Linked DNA regions of Homo sapiens: region 2 is linked to region 1. Evidence: fine-mapped expression QTL. Tissue or cell type: lung. Region 1 holds a variant in brackets; the other region holds the start of a gene. All regions are shown on one strand. Distances are from middle to middle.

Region 1 (8,189 bases):
AACTTTAGTTTCTACCAGGAAAGTAAAAATGGTCAGATAATATTTAATGTGACTGGGGAGGCTGGGCGTGGTGGCTCACACCTGTAATTCTAACACTTTGGGAGGCTGATGTGGGCTGATCACCTGAGGTCAGGAATTACCAGCCTGGCCAACATTGCAAAACCCCGCTGCTACTAAAAATACAAAGAGTAGCAGGGCACTGTGGCAGGCACCTGTAATCCCAGCTACTTAGGAGGCTGAGGTAGGAGAATCTCTTGAACCTGGGAGGCAGAGGTTGCAGTGAGCCAAGATTGAGCCATTGTACTCCAGCCTGGGCGAGAGAGCAAGACTCCGTCTCAAAAATAAATAAATAAATAAAAATTAAAGTAATAATATGAATGGGGACATTTTAAATTGTGAAATTAAAGAAGGCAAAGAAAAGAACTTATAAAATGTTTACTTTATTAGAATTAAGGTGATGATATGTTCTGTTAACAAATGTACTTTGAAAAGCATGAATTTTTTTGACCAGTATTTGTAGTCTGTTTTCTATTTAAAAATCAATTTTCCATAACAGGGAGGAAGCAATAAACATAATGATAACAACCACCTGGATAAGTATTGGCTCTTGGGAACCAGGCACTGTACTAAGCACTTTCCACATATTATCTCATTTAATTCTCACAAAGCTCTATTGAATAAGCAGGCATTAGGTCTGATTTTACAGAGGGGTAACTGGGATTTGGAGAGATTAAGTAAATTTTCCAAGGTCTAAGCTAGTTAGTGGCATTACAGGAAAGACTGAAACTTGTCATCAGAAGACCTCTGCTTGAACACCAAATGCAGGAAGCACTGACTCTGACCTTGATAAGGTCAAGTAGTTACATGTTCATCTATTTTGCTTTGCATATTGGTTAATAGGCAAATGGTCATAAAATTTCTCTGTTATCTGTAAATGTCTTCTAAAAAGTTGTATTTTGAAGAGTGTATTCATCATCTCTAAAATTCTATGGTAGTTGAAAGGCTACACAAAAGTTTTTGGACCTGATACAAATATTATAAATATTATTCTTTCTGTGTGATTTGATACTCCATGTAAAACTCTTCCTAATGGTCTCAAGTTTCAAAGGATTTAAAAGTAAAGTAAAGTAGCCACATTGTGACATGAGGAACAAAATCCATTAGTTTAGTGTATAGAGAGGATATTAACAGTGGCCCCTCTTCCTGTAGAGGTATTTGAGAACATAACTATTGCCTACATTGAGGACAGTATGTTATATACAAGCTAATATCTTGATTGCATATTTTTAGTAGACTTTGTGGACAAATGAAGTTTGCTTTCCTGTATGATCAAATTATTTCAATGAAAAATTAAAGGAAATGGATTAGTGTGTGTGAAATTTTTATCTAAAGCTAAGTCTTTTTCCATGGGAAGCTGGGAGAGATTTCTTTCTCATTACCAGAGAAATGTTTTTCACTAGAAATACCTTGCATAGGGGTCTACACTTGCTATTTTCTTTCCTGGCCATCTGCCTTTTTACCTTTGTTTTGTGTGTGTGTGTGTGTGTGTGTGTGATGGAGTCTCGCTCTGTTGCCCAGGCTGGAGTGCAGTGGCACCATCTCGGCTCACTGCAACCTCTGCTTCCCGGGTTCAGGCAATTCTCCTGCCTCAGCCTCCTGAGTAGCTGGGATTACAGGCACCTGCCACCACGCCCGGCTAATTTTTGTATTTTTAGTAGAGACGGGGTTTCACCATGTTGGTCAGGCTGGTCTCAAACCCCTGACCTCGTGATCCACCCGCCTCGGCCTCCCAAAGTGCTGGGATTACAGGTATGAGCCACCATGCCTGGCTTTCTTTCTTTCTTTCTTTTTTAATATCCAGATTAAACTTTTTTGTGTGTGTCTATATCTCTATAAAACCTCCCACAACAAAATTATGAGGAGGCTTCAGAAAAACAATTAGCTAACCCATACACATGGAACTCAAAAATGTATCATTAAAATGTTGAGCTTCTGCATCAAGGCAGCCAACAAAAAGTTGAGGCTGATTTGCACAATTTTCCCAATGTTGTTCAGACCTTGGGAACTTGGAGTACAAAAATAGAAATCTAATCAAAAATAGGAGAGAGTAATGATATTTTTACAGCAACGTGAATTTTCAACTATTTTCCATCACTAACAGAAGCTCATACTGCTTATCAGTACCATTCAAGAATCTGAGATTGAGATAGCTAATTTAATCATCTGACTAAATTCTTCAAAAAATTTGTGAGGATTTCAGCTCCCTAAAATTCCTTCTGGGCTATGTTTGATAAATAAAAGTTTTAAATATAAGAAAATATGCAGTATTTCAAGTAAGTAACGAAGCAAGTAAGTAATCTGCTTTGTTGATTCTTGTGCTACCTGATTTATTTTTGCATTATAAAAAACAGCTGGAATTATGGAAGGTCACTTGGAAGCAGTTTCTCTGAAGAACTATGGGATTTGAAAATTCAATCTGAATGCTATCACAAAAAAATTGTTGGGAAAAAAGTAATGAGAACAGGTATTTCATTTACGGGCATAACATCATAATCCTATGACCCAAATCACATTTCAGCATTAAATTTCCACAAGCCAAATATAGTTCTATTACTTGAAAGCTCTTTAGCAACTCTTCGAGGCAAGCCTGCACTTTCTAAGAATATGAATTTACAATTAAAATGAAGTGGACTATCAAGCCTTTTTAAAAATGTGGACAGTGTATGCAAATAATCTGGATAATCCTGATACTCTGGGTCAGAAATCCCCTTGCACTAAGTTTCAACAGAGGAGATGGGAATGGAAAGGCTGGAGTAACAGAAGTTTTCCTTCCTGAGATAACTTGAGTCTGACTTATAGGAGTAATTTTTCAAATGTTAGTACATTTTTAAAACACTATTCTCATACTCTGAGTGCAATTTTCATTAAATGGTTTGTACACAATTCATAATACAACTTTGGTATCTGTCATCTAATAACTTGAAACCATGGCTTAAGTTTCTATTGCATTGGGTATAAAACTGGTATTATTAATAACGACTAGGTATTACTATTTTGGCTGAATTGAATTCTGTCACTAGAATTCTGTCACTAGAAGGTAAAAGGGTATTATTCCTCATTAGAAATCTCTATGTGTAAATATCATATGGTCTTTGGGAAACAGCTCTGATTCTACTATATATTACAGAAACAGCTGAGTCAGCAGCTTGCAGAGTAAAATGTATGATTACAATTTCTTTTCTCAGTTCAACAGAGAAAAAAATAAAGCTGTTGGAAGCAAACAAAACTAAAAGAGATGTGTCTAAAATAGCTAGACATAGACAAATTCAGAATTCTATTTTGGTAGTCATAATACGTACAGGAAAATACTTCTAGACAGATTTACACTATCATTTGACCTTCACAAGTCATACTTTTCACAGTGAATGCAGTTTACTGAGGCTACGCTTTTGACCTTGAAGATGTAACTTAGAGTTTTATGTCTCTTAGCAAACTTATCATGCCTCTGGTACCCCAATGGAGTTTATCTAAAATTATCATCATCTGCTTAAACTGTTAAGTTCTATAATTCCTTTTTTAATTATTCAGCATCCAAGGGCAAGGAAAGAACTGTTCCTCTTATTGCATAAGTCTCAGCTTTCTTAATGCAGGATGTCCCTCATCTGAAGCTGGGACTGAGGAAATAGCTGCATTGTACTGCAGCCTCAAATCCTGCTACAGCTCTCAGGCTTAGGAATCAGCTGAGCTGAACAGAAATGTGCAGGGGCAATGTATTGGTCTATAGGAGCTAAAGCTTAACTGAAGCAGATTATAATAGGGTAAACTACTTTTTCCTGGACAATAGCTTGTCTAATTTTCATTTTATTTATATTGTTTCTCTTAATGATTAAACAGTTACTCTAACAGAATGACCTTATATCCTAAGTTTTACTTCCTATTTTCTCTCTCTGACTTGCATTTAAATGAACTTTATGGCCTCCATTTTACTTGAAGATAGCAACTGCACTTAACAGCCTTGAACGATTATACCAACTCACTGCAGCTGGACATTCTTAAGCTACTCAACTTTAATTGTCCCCAATTCTTAACTCTACTGTAATGCAATAGTGTTTAAAAGCCAGGGAACACGTTCACCAATTAGCAGAAAGGGAAAGAAAAAGTCAATGCAGCAGAACTAAAATTAAGAAACACTAGCCCAGCATCTCAACTCTAAGTAACTTAAAATTAATTAGGCTTTGATAAGAGAAGCTGTGTTTCCTTACCTTGGATGTGAATAGCTCTGTCATGATCCAGAGTATAGTTGTCTGAAAGATGATCAGCCCAGCAGATTGAAATCAGCACCAGAAGAAGTAGACTCTTCATCTTTATAGCCCAAAGAATCTTCTTCACTGCGAGAGCATCACATACAAAGAGGCTTGTGAGATTTGGAACCCTTTGGAGTGTTGCACTGCACAACTTATTACCGCCTTATCATCATAGAATGGGTCTGTAAAAATATTTAACCCAATCTGTTCAGAAAGTTACTGTAGCTGCCTTTAAGAGCCGAAGACGGCAGCTTTGAACAATTCCTGCTAC[C/A]ATCATGTAGCCAGAGTCCAAATAGTGTTTAACTCTATCTTTGCAGAATTGTAAATCTAGAAATTTAAAACACTGTAGTTTGGATAGAGAATTACAGCAAGTAACAAAGAGATGTGGCAAAAACATACACACTCTTAAAAAAATGTAAGCCTCTGAATTTGCAACATAAGTTAATAAAACAGCAATGTGTTATGTCTGTATATGAGTATCACTTGGTCTAATTAGAAAGTGAATCTAAAGCCAGGGCAAATAATATTTGCATGAAACTTGACATCGTCATTCATTTTACATGTGGCTTCCTAAGAAGGTTAGACTTGCTTGTTCCAAATAGAAAAGAGGACCAAAAAAAAGTGCCCGATTAAGCAGAAGCAGCACATTTGTTACAGATTCACTTACCATCTTACATACTGCTTGGGTCTACGGTGAATAGTTGAAAATTATGAACAAACTAGGTTAGAGTTGTGCACGCTACCACTGCAGTCATCCTGATTGATTTTTCATTCATTTCAACCTAAAATGCTGACGCACCAACTTAGAGTGCCAGGTAGGGTCTCTGCAGTCAGCGGATCCACGGCTGCAGGGAACGTCCCTGCCAGCCTCCCAGGGCAATTAGGCAAATGAAAAGCTGAAACAGACAGGGAGGCACAGATCTGGTCCTAAGTGAAAAAGGCAGAGCCATCACTTGCCTGTCCTTTATTGAAAGACCAATGTGATAAAAGGGGACATAACCTCTTCCCTCCCAAAAGTTTGTCATTGGAAGAACCAAAAGTGATTCTAAGTGATACGAACCTTATAACCTTTGCAGTATTTGCCAGGCAAGGATTTCAGTGGAGCTTCTTGGTTTTAATGTGGAAGCTGACACGAAAATTAACAAGGACCTTCTATTTCTCTCATGCACACAGCAGCCTTGACAATACCGGCTATTTTTAAAACTGAAATTGCACAGTACTGGCTTCTCACACTAATTTGTTTTTTCCAAGAAAGCCTGACTCCCTGGGATACTTATTAAAGAGCTCTGAGTCTGTTCCTGGAGGTCCTTGTAGGAGAGCCTCTACTCCAGAACCTAATTCACTTATTCACAGAAGGTCCCCAAGTCTCTTCTGAGACTGAAACATGTCTCTGTATTTTCCCCTGTGAAGATTTGCACTACTGTGATGCTGATGGCTTTAGTCTTTCACGTTTGCTTTAAATCTTTTCTTTTTCTTCATTATATCACATAAAGAAGATGGTAGATAAGCAAACAAATTGTGAAATTTATTTGTCAAGGAAACCAAGAATGTTAGCTTCAAAATTCTACCTGATTTACTAGTCTTATTTTCAGAAGTTCACTTCCTTGTTCCTCTAAGAACTTTTTTGAAATGCTTATTTTTGTTGTTGTTGTTGGTTGTTTGTAGTCACTAACTTTTGTCCACAAAATTACAGTTTAAAATATTACCTATTTTCAGCCCAGGATTGTGCTTTGGGTGAACAAATATAAAGGTGGCCTTTTGGAATTTGGAATATAATTGAGATAACTGTAAACACAAATATGAAACAACAGACAAACAGTACCAGAGTTGTGATGTGCTCTCTGCTTGTTTACAGGAATCAGAGAAGGGGCGCTGTGGAGGAGAGAGTATAAAGAAGGTGTATAATTTAACAATCAAACACAGGAGACATTCTAGATGAGGAGTCAAGATGAGCAAAGGTGGAGAGTTTGCTAAATTAATGTTCACGTTAGTGTGGTCATGTATAGTGTAATTTATAGGGAGCTGTATATGATACACACACTAGGTTAGAGTTGTTTATCCTACCACTGCAACCATCTTGAATTTCATTCGTCTTAAAAATATATGACACATCTATCTATGTATCTCCTTTAGTTCCATACCATAGTATTTAAAATTATACTACTAAGGGTTCATTCCAATGTGTTAAAGTACTGACTATCCAACAACCTAATTTAAAATTGTAAACGTCTTGAGTGCTTGTGAGGGAGTATGGGGAATAAACAATGATAAAAACACCTTTCATGGAATGTCTACTGTTCGCCAGCACTATAAGCAGCATTTTGTCTGCAATGGCTCATGGATTCCTTAGAACAATAATGTGAGACAAATATTTCCATTTCTTGGGATACAGACAGTAATCTTGCTGGAAGGTACACATCTAGTAAGTGGCAAAGTCTGTATTTGCCTTCAAGCAAATTTAATTTGTTATGTCTTTTGTTGCCTTTTTAAATTCAAGCTCTTTAACTTACAACTATGATCTTAAGACTTTGACTTGTGTTATATATGAATATAAACATTTTTCCCAAGACTTACATATTGAGAAGGCAGTCAGGTGGTATTTTTCTTAACATGATTTGCCCTGCCTCATTAATTATATCACTCTGGTACCATGAACAAAGTCTTGGTGGTTCACATGTGTGCACACATACACAGAGATATGCACACATACACAGAGATACGCACACATATACAGAGATACGCACACATACACAGAGATACGCACACATACACAGAGATACGCACACACAGAAAGATAGATACATACCATCTTTGAAAAATTCAAGTATATTGGACATCTGCAGTAACTTGTGATTAGAGGCCTCTATCAGTGAATACTTTAGAGTACCCTGTGCTGGATTCAATACAATCCAGGGAGGTGAGAATGGAAATTATCTTTGTTACTCTGGTAAGCACAACAACCATCTCACCAGTAGACATGAAACTAGAAAAGTATACTTTAGGGTCACAGTCTTCAGGTGTCTGAGCAATAAGCTATATAAAACAAGGTGCTGCACACCAGACTGAGGTCATTGAGGTCAAGGGCTGTGCCACGGGTCTAAGTGCTGGTCCCAGTAGAAAAGGACACCTCAGACATAGTAGGTGGTCATGTGAGTAAATAAATCTGAGTCCTGCTTGTTTGCATTTTGTAATCATGCCTCCTCTTAATGTCTAGGTATGTTAGGTAAAAATTTGCAGTTTTTGATATGAGCTAAAATTTAGACAATCGGGGAGACTTTTCCACAACCAGCTATTATCAACTCCTGAATTAGTGCTCTCAGTTCACCTGCAATTCACACATTGAAGGTCTCTTTTCACAGCCTTACAAATCTTAATGCTCGATCAGCCAGCTTCAAGATGAATCCAAACTGAAATGTCTATGTTCATAGTCAAAGACAGATAATAGGAATGTAATTTTACAGTCCTGCTTTGTTGATAATTGAAGCATGATTTGGAAGCAATATACCTTATCCAATGTGAAAGAGTAATAGTTTGATAGAAATGCAGATATACTAATATCAACAGTCTAATACCAAGATGGTCAACTGCTATTTCTTAAGTGTCTACTACATTATCATTATCATATTAGGTAATGGGGAGATCAAACCAAGTGAAAGGCATGTGTGCTACTTCATGTGCCTTGAGAGCTAACACTACATATTTCCTGAACTGCCATTTCTCAGAACAACTCAATTGAGGTAAGTATGTTGTTAGACACATTTTACAGCTCTAGAAGTGGAGTCTTAGGGTGGTGAGGTACCCAGCATGTACAACAAGGAGCTGGTAGTCTGGGCAGTGTTACCCCAGAGACGCATTCCCAACTACCATTACCATTGTCGTGGGTCC
Region 2 (8,189 bases), 48 kb after region 1:
CAAAGCTCCCCAAGTAACAAATTCATCATTTTTTTCTACTGAGGCATTTTACCTTCCTATATGAATTTCACAACTTGTATTGATTAATGCTGATTGTCCTGATCACTGTTGCAATTGTCACATAACTTGCAAAGAGCCAGTTGGAGTGATAATTCGTATATCTTTTAAAGAAAAGGTTTTTAAAGCTCTCAGTGCAATACTCAAATGGACTAATCTTCTATGGTATCTTAATGCTTCCTTCAAGTGGTGGTTTTCCATGTAATTGTTTTTGTCTAGAATTTTTTTTCTATTAGATCAACTTCATGGAAGCCAGGTTCCTGCTTCAAAACTCCAAGTGAACAACAAGTATAGATGAAGTTGTTTTACATGCTAATTATTAGTGTTTGAGAGCAATATTTTATAAAATAGACCTCATTACTCAAAAACAACTTGTACTACTATCCTTTCCAATTTAATAAAAAAATCAAAGAATATGAAACAAAATGTGCAGCTGTGTGGTAACCTTTTAAGCTAGTAGTTATTTTCCCAACTAAATTCAGTAACATTAAACCTTAGAGAAATTTATTTCTATTTCAGGAACAGTGATTTAAGATGGTCAAACTCTTTCCACCAGTCCTTGAACAATTCCATGACCTGTCTGTCTAAAACAAATCCTATATTAGAAGTGAGTTGCAGTTATTAAGCTATATCCTTGTGGAGGCGGAAAGTTAATGGTAAAGTATCCAACAAAGAGTAAAGTGATCTTAAATACAACCAGTAGGGATTTCATAAACTGTTTAGTTGTACCTTAATTTTTAACTTATATAAACATCACTTGCTTTAGTTTCTACCCTGAGCACCTATCCCAATGTCTGGCGTGTAGTTAATGTTCAACAAACGTCAACCGAGGGAGTCAGAGTATTTTAAGAAGCCGGTGAGAAAGCCTTCTTTGACTTATCCACTAGGTGGCACACAGGGACCATGCTTCACACAGTTAACCACCACAGACCCTCCCATTCAGTGTAAATAAAGAGATGCATTATTAATTTATACCACCTCGTCCTCTCTACTCCTAATAATTGTTTAACCAGCTGTTTCCTCTAATCCTCCTTAAACACTATTGATTAAAATCCTAAGTATATTCAGGTTTCCATCCTTTCCTACTTCTTCCAACAGCATTTTGCTACCTTTAAATGACAGGCTAAGTACACTTAAATGACATAGACTAAGTACTATGGTTACTACTCATGGCTGCAGGATGTCAGAAAATTAATTTGAAGCACTATCAAAATTATTTTCAAATTTGCCTGGTATTTCGTCAGAATTTTAACTGGTGAGAGATCATGATCTTAAAAATGCAATCTGAAAAATAAAATGTGCATGGGGCAAAAAGAAATGAAAAAGAAAACTAGTATTTTCTAAGGAAGGGAGTCATTTTCTGAATATAACTTTTGTTCATCTTTACAAAGATGAAGTGCATTGCTATCTTAAGATTCAAAGGACTTCTTCAACTGTTCAGAAAATACCAATATTCCACACCTAAGATGCTAAAAGGCAGGATTGTTTAGTAGACCGTTTACTCATAAAGTATCTTTCTGTGTACTCTGAATGTATTTATCCTGGATGTGTTACTTGCTCCCAAAGGAAGGAAAAGGAAGTGAAACCACTAGGGATATAATGAATTGATTCTTCTCTGTGAAAGTCTCTTCAGTACTTCTAAATTACAGTGTCAGTCATTCCTCTGAGAGACAGGGCCTTGCTGAAAATAAATGGCTCATTTTATAAATAAGTACATAATGTTTCCCCACCTTCTTGTTTCTCATAGAAAGCCCAGGCCCATAAGGCATTCCTGTCGAGAATACTGGCCTCTGGGTACATTCCTCCTGTAGAGCAGTGGTCTGTTGAGGTTGTTGGTTATCTCTTGTTCATTTAATTAGCCTTAAGTAAAATTACTTCTTATCTAGTTCTGTTTTTAAGCTGTTTCCAATTTAGTGGAAGAGGTCATCAACAAAAGTATAAATTCATTTCTTAGCTGAAACAATTAAATTTTTTAAAATGGGTGGTATAAAAGTGACTAAAGACTAAAGCTAATATCTGAAGAGTCCTTTGGTATACATTATATTTTACTGAATGGAAGAGAAACTTTCATTTTTGTAGGTAAATGGAATTTGTTAACTGATATAAGAATTATGAATCATATCACATTAAAAATTCTCCAAAGATAACTACTATGATATACTTTTGATAGAACAATATTCCCATTCCATTAAAATACTGAAATGACTGAAATGTGTATAAAATCTCTGCAAATTTAGTACACAGAAATAATCACATAGAAATAGTTACCAGAAACTACAATTGTAATGAATAAATATTACATTCATTTAGAAATCAATCCACAGCCTTAATTTCTTAAGAACTATTAGCTTCCAAGAAGCCAGCCAGTATGTTTGATTTTATGACATCACACTGGAACATGTACAGGAACACTTTCCACCCTAAAAATTCCCAAATGTACTGGCCACTGTGTGTATTTTTCCAGTGATAAATGAAAATAAAGCAACTTATTCTCAAATTAATAAGCCATCTTATTTTGAACACAACAGTCACATTCAATGGAAGAAAACTACTTAATCGAAGCCCAAACAAGTTTAGGTTTGTTTTTGGTGGGGAACAGTCTCAACATACAAATAATTTCTTTAAGCAACTTTTAACAGTAATCTTAACTATGACTATAAATTCTCTTCAGTGCATTCAAATTATCCATCAACATCATTGTATATATGAAATGCATCATCATTCTATGATCTTAAGTTCATAATTAGCTGGAGAAGGAAGCCTGGGCCAAAAATGGCAACATTTCTAAGATTATTAATCTAACAGGTATTACCTATGCCTAAAGTAACTTTCTTTTTCACATAACCCTATATATTCTCTGAAACAAAATTCATAAGCCTGGCTGGACATTCCCATTCCTCACCTTTCCCTTCAGCCTATACTATCCTTGTTTCATCTCAGGTGCTATAAAAATGGTTGTTGAGATACAGATAGAAAAGTCACCACTTGGAAACCATGACCCTACCAGATTTACAGGAGCACTAGCAGAAGCTAAGATACTAGAGTTAATTCTTTCTCCATTTTTAGACTGAGCCTGTTTATTGTAGTGAAATATTTTATCCGACAATATGAAACTTTTTTAAAAGTTGAGGTGTCATATTAAATTCAAATGAAAACTAAACTCAAAAGAAAAGAATAAAATTTGTTTAATGTATATATACATTGCATGTGTATTGCCCTCTGAAATCTTAAAGGCACAAAGGTATAACCAAAAGAGGGGGAAACAATTTGCAAGTTTTACCTTGTCCTGAAATCCAGGAGTTCGGATGCTCTCAAGTTCTGCTTAAGTTGGAAGCTGGAGATCAAGTGAAGCTAGCGCTCTTTCTCCTCACCTTAAGTTTGTCTCTGGGCGAGTGTGAGAGTGTGTGTGTGTGTGCGTGTGTGAGTGTGTGTGCAGAATGTCTCTTTGTGGCGCTGGATGGCAGAGGTCCTGATCCTGGGAAGAAGGAGGCACTTTCTCACCAAGAGCAGAAGAAAAGCAAAGCGTCACCAGGAAAGTTCTCCTCCCAAATCCCCTAATTACAGCCTAATGTGCACTTCATGCAAACTTCAGGGAGGAAGGGAGGGGCAGCTCTGTGCCCAGACCTTGTAAAGCAGCAGCCTCTTAGATGACTTTCCCCTCTGCTCAGATCCCGAGTATCCCGCTCTGGGGTTTAGGAAAGCCGGCCGCTACAGCCACACAAGCCCCCACCACACCACACCTCCCGAACCCGAACCCTCATCAGTCCTGGGTCTGTCCAGAAGGGATGGGACAAGGGGTCTGTGGAATGATCTGCGGGGCAGCGGTGTGAGCAGACTCCTCAGGACAGTCAGTTTGCGCTTTGTTTTATTAGCCTCTGCTTAAAAGAAAAATCCAAGGGTCGGAGAGGTCCTCTCTTTCCCGCCTTCCCCTCACCAAAGGAGATCAAGGATAACAGACAATGATGATAGTGGCACATAAAGCTTCTTAAACTGGAGATGGCCTTCCACCCAAATCACCAGAAGCATATTTTCTGGTTTACTGGACTCAGTATTGGTGTTGAGTTTAAATTTCTCTTAACAAACAACTGCTATTGTATCCTTGGATGACAGAGCTCAAAGAACCTGGATTTATTTATAGAACGAGGAATGCGAGGGGGAGACGGGATGGGTGGGGTTGGGTTGTGGATCCATAACCAGGATTAGAACCAGATGGGCACAGGGCGCGCGCGCGCACACACACACACACACACACACACACACACACACACAGACACACACACCCCTGAAATAACCAGTGGGGAAGATGCTGGGACACGCGGGAAAACGCCTCCTGAACAAATAGACGTTTATTTATAACTTCTGGGAGAGTATATAGGTCCATTGATTCCCGCCTTGAGTAACCAAGGGTTTTGGAGAGGAAATGGCTTCATATTTCAATAACAGAGCCACCTTTGATGGAGTCTAGGAAGGGGAAAAAAGAAACACACCGCAGGAAGCAAACGGCTGTTGGAGCAGCCGGGAGGAGGGAGCGGGGCTGGCCCTGGGACTGAGGACAAGCAAACAAGCTCGAGGGGCCCGCGGCCAGGGTGGAGGCGAGACGCAGGCCGTCCCCGAGTTGCAGCGAGCAGGGCCCGGTGTCGCGGAGCGCTGGGGACGTGCGGGGATTCGCGGCCGTGCTCCCGGCTCCAACCTCCGGCCCCGGCGGGGCGGCGCGGGCGGGACTGCGGGCTTCTTAAGGCCGCCGCCGCCGCTCGGGCTGTGGCGCGGGTTGGGGAGAGGGTTCCGTGGGCCGTAGGGACTGAGGGAGTCGTAAGTCGATGAGCTAGTGGGGCAGGAGGATGGGCGGGTCCAGGGCGTCCTGGAGGTGCAAGGTGGGATGGGAGGACCTGAGGGGCAGCCAAGCTGCTGGGGAAGCCGCCGGGACGGGGGCTCTGGCCGACAATGCAGGTGGCCGGTGTGCAGATGAGCCAGCGCGCGGGGTGCGGCCGCCGGGATGCCCGATCCGAGTCGCGCGGGTGGCGGCGAGCGGCGCTATTGTCTTAAAGATAAAGCCTAAGCCACGGGGACTGCCTCCTCCTGGACTCTGGAGAGAGGCGGGAGAGATTGCAGGGGAAAAAAGGCTTCTTCCCGCGTCTTCTGAGAGATTTCACCAGTTCTTGCCTCTGGGCTCCCCCTTGCCATTCTGTCTTTGGTAAATCAACACGTGCCTCTTGGAAAGGTTTCATTTCAAAGACAAACGGAACACTCACACACCCTCCCTAAATGAAGACAGTTATATTCAAAATGAATTCTTCATCAGGCGTTCAACACCTTTCTTGGAATTCCAAAACCTGGGTGAGGGCGCTTCTCTTATTTTTCTGTTTCCCCTCCCGCACAGGGAACAGGTTTTGCAGTTTTATGTCCCTAATCTAGTGGCTATTGAGGCAGCTGTTATATAGGCCTCTACATTAACTGCCAATAAAAATAAGATACATCTCGGCTTTTCAACTATGCAAAGGGTTTTTATGCTATTCATATTTCTTGTAAACGTTCAGGGTGGTGTGTATTTTAAAGAACATAAACGAATTAGACTTATAAACAAATATCCAATTTTTATATTAAAGCACCATAAAGGTGGTAAGGCTGGTGGTGTGTGGCTATGATATCATATAAAGACAGTTTAAATACCGATCTTGTTCCCTCAGCTTAACAACCTAATTTCTGGCGATTGCCTGGAGCGTAAATCAAATCAGCTGGCTCATGGCTGGCACTTGTTCCCCTATTTTGTGGTCTGCTCTATACACTTATTCCGGCACAACATTAAGATAATTTAATGTATTCTCTTCTGAAATTGTTTAATAACCACCCAAGACAATCTATTTTGCAACTTAGTCACACCATGGTGAGCTACACTAGATTTTTTTTCAATCTCAGGTATAGCCGCAACTATTGAGATAGACTTCCAGAAATAATGACAGGTACTTACCTCTGAGTCATCCTGTCCCTCCTGATCCTCCCCTATTTCCAGCCTTCCCTTCCCCATTGCCTCCTTACTAGTCTTTGTTAAAGATCCCCAGTCTTTTTAATCACAAATATTTAACCTATCAATAGTGTGTATTTGAAGTGTTATTCAGGCTTAATTTAATTGACGTTATATACATTTTTCCATTCGTTTTGGGGTTCACATGGTTTTCTAGTTATTTAAATTTACATTGGAATTAGCTTTAAGAGTCTTTTAAAAAGATTTTTATGTTCAGTTAATTAATGTTCAGCCAAATTGTGCTTTATGGAGGCATACATTACTTTGATTAGCCCTTATAGTTTTTCATCAGGGCACAGGCATTATAATAAGCCATGGTAAAAAATCAAATCAAGTAAATGCAGGAATAAATACAACTCTATTTTCATGACTAAATATTTTACAAAGATATAAATTGTAAAAATAATTTTTGAAGACCAAAATATCTTCTTAAAGAAAACCATATCAAAAAAGTATTCTGTATTTGAAGATTTCCTGTATTTATTAACATTAGTAAGTCATGTGGAAATTCAAATCTTTCCTTTGTTAAATCAAGGTTAGCCTAAAGCTGTCTTCTTACATATTTTAAGTTTGGCCTAAAGGTTTCTCTGTACATTGTGAACTATAACCTGAATGGAATTGTAAACAGACTGTAGCCTGCTCTTGTGGCAACACTGAGCTTTGGCCAATCACATGTGGCCAACTGTTCAAACCCTGTTCAAATAAGGCAAAGGTGGAGCTATAACCAGTCCGGGGGTTTCTGTACCTCACTTTCCTTTTTCTGCCCATAAACCTTCTACCACGTGGCTGTGTTGGAGTTTCTGAGCCTGCTCTGCCTCTGGAGACTGTTGGAATTGTTCTTTGCTTAATCAAACTCTTTTAAATTTAGTTTTGCTAAAGTTTTTTTTTTCCCTAACACATAGCATATTGAGGTTTGTTTTATTTGCTTTTTTAATTTAGAGAAGGCAAATAAGCCATTTTTTTAAGTTTCAAGAAAAACCAAACTTTTTTTTATTTTTCAATAATATATTTTGAACTATTTCTCATTCTTATTAAATAATCTGATGTTAAACAATATTATTTCAAAATATGCTGATGTATTTATATTATATAAAATTATATATCAAAATATTCTATATATAATATATACAGCATATTTTGAAATGATGTTTAATGTAATACAACAGTATTTTATAAGAATGAAAAACAGGTTAAAAAATGGTGTTATAAAATGTAACTTTGCATTCTTTTGCTAATTGTAACACAATTTGAGTAATTAGGTTGAACCAGATAAAATGGAATATTCAACCTTTTTTGACCTACCAAAAAGCAATTTCAGCTGGTTTCACCTTATACAAATTTGAATATGTGTGTAGCATAAGTGTAGCAGGAACATTTTCAACTTTTAAAAAAATATTGATCTGCAATATCATGAATATTTAATATGTAATAAATTCCCAAGCAGAATAGTATGCCTGCTGGCATATTACACTCGTAACAAAATATACATTTATATTCAAAAGGGGATTATCTAAATTCATCTCCTCTTCAAACTCCAAAAGAGGCTGCTGTTATCCACTAAATTCCAGAGAATTGCTTCCCTCTGAGCACTTGTTTCCTGGAATTTTTGCCTCAGGCTGACATTATATCTGATTGAACATCTGCTAGGATAAAGGTTCAGCTTCGTGCACTTTGGAGGTACTGGGGGGAGGAAAGCCATTTGACCTTTCCTGTCTGAGGGCTCAGAACTTCATTAAAGCACCTCCTGGGATTGTGGGCATAGCCATGAGAAAGACACCATTTGTAATTAAGTCCTTCCCACTGGCTATATTCCTGTTGAACTCGATGATTAAAATACAAATTCAATATTCTAAATGGTCACAAAGCATTTGATAAAAGGTTATTTTGCTTTTAATGCAATGAGGGGGAGGGATGACTTTCCAAGAGCCCACTTTTTGTGCTCACTCTCAGAAAGTGTCCAGCAGACAGACTCTTCAAAAGGGCATGCTAAATAATTAGGCAATAAATTGTTCAAATGTTAAGAGCAGAGCTGTTCCAGAAGCTACTGAGGCCAAATGAGTCCATCATACCAAGTGATAAATATCCTTGGCTCCTAAGAAGTAAGCGCCTGCTT

What was found. PIP is the estimated chance that this variant, and not a neighbour inherited with it, causes the effect.
Region 2: it holds the start of HAPLN1, and the variant in region 1 is fine-mapped to the expression of HAPLN1 in lung (TOPMed, PIP 0.92).

Annotation. Positions count from the first base shown.
Region 1 is chr5:83,669,162-83,677,350 of GRCh38, forward strand. It overlaps HAPLN1 (hyaluronan and proteoglycan link protein 1), which reads right to left. Exons shown (of 5, transcript NM_001884.4): 2 at 4,263-4,388. The coding sequence starts at 4,362. Among named protein-coding and RNA genes, the nearest start is that of HAPLN1, 48 kb to the right of the region's middle. The variant C/A (reference allele first, on the strand shown) is at 4,576.
Region 2 is chr5:83,717,452-83,725,640 of GRCh38, forward strand. It overlaps HAPLN1 (hyaluronan and proteoglycan link protein 1), which reads right to left and starts at 3,404. Exons shown (of 5, transcript NM_001884.4): 1 at 3,338-3,404. RefSeq lists a silencer at 4,989-5,048.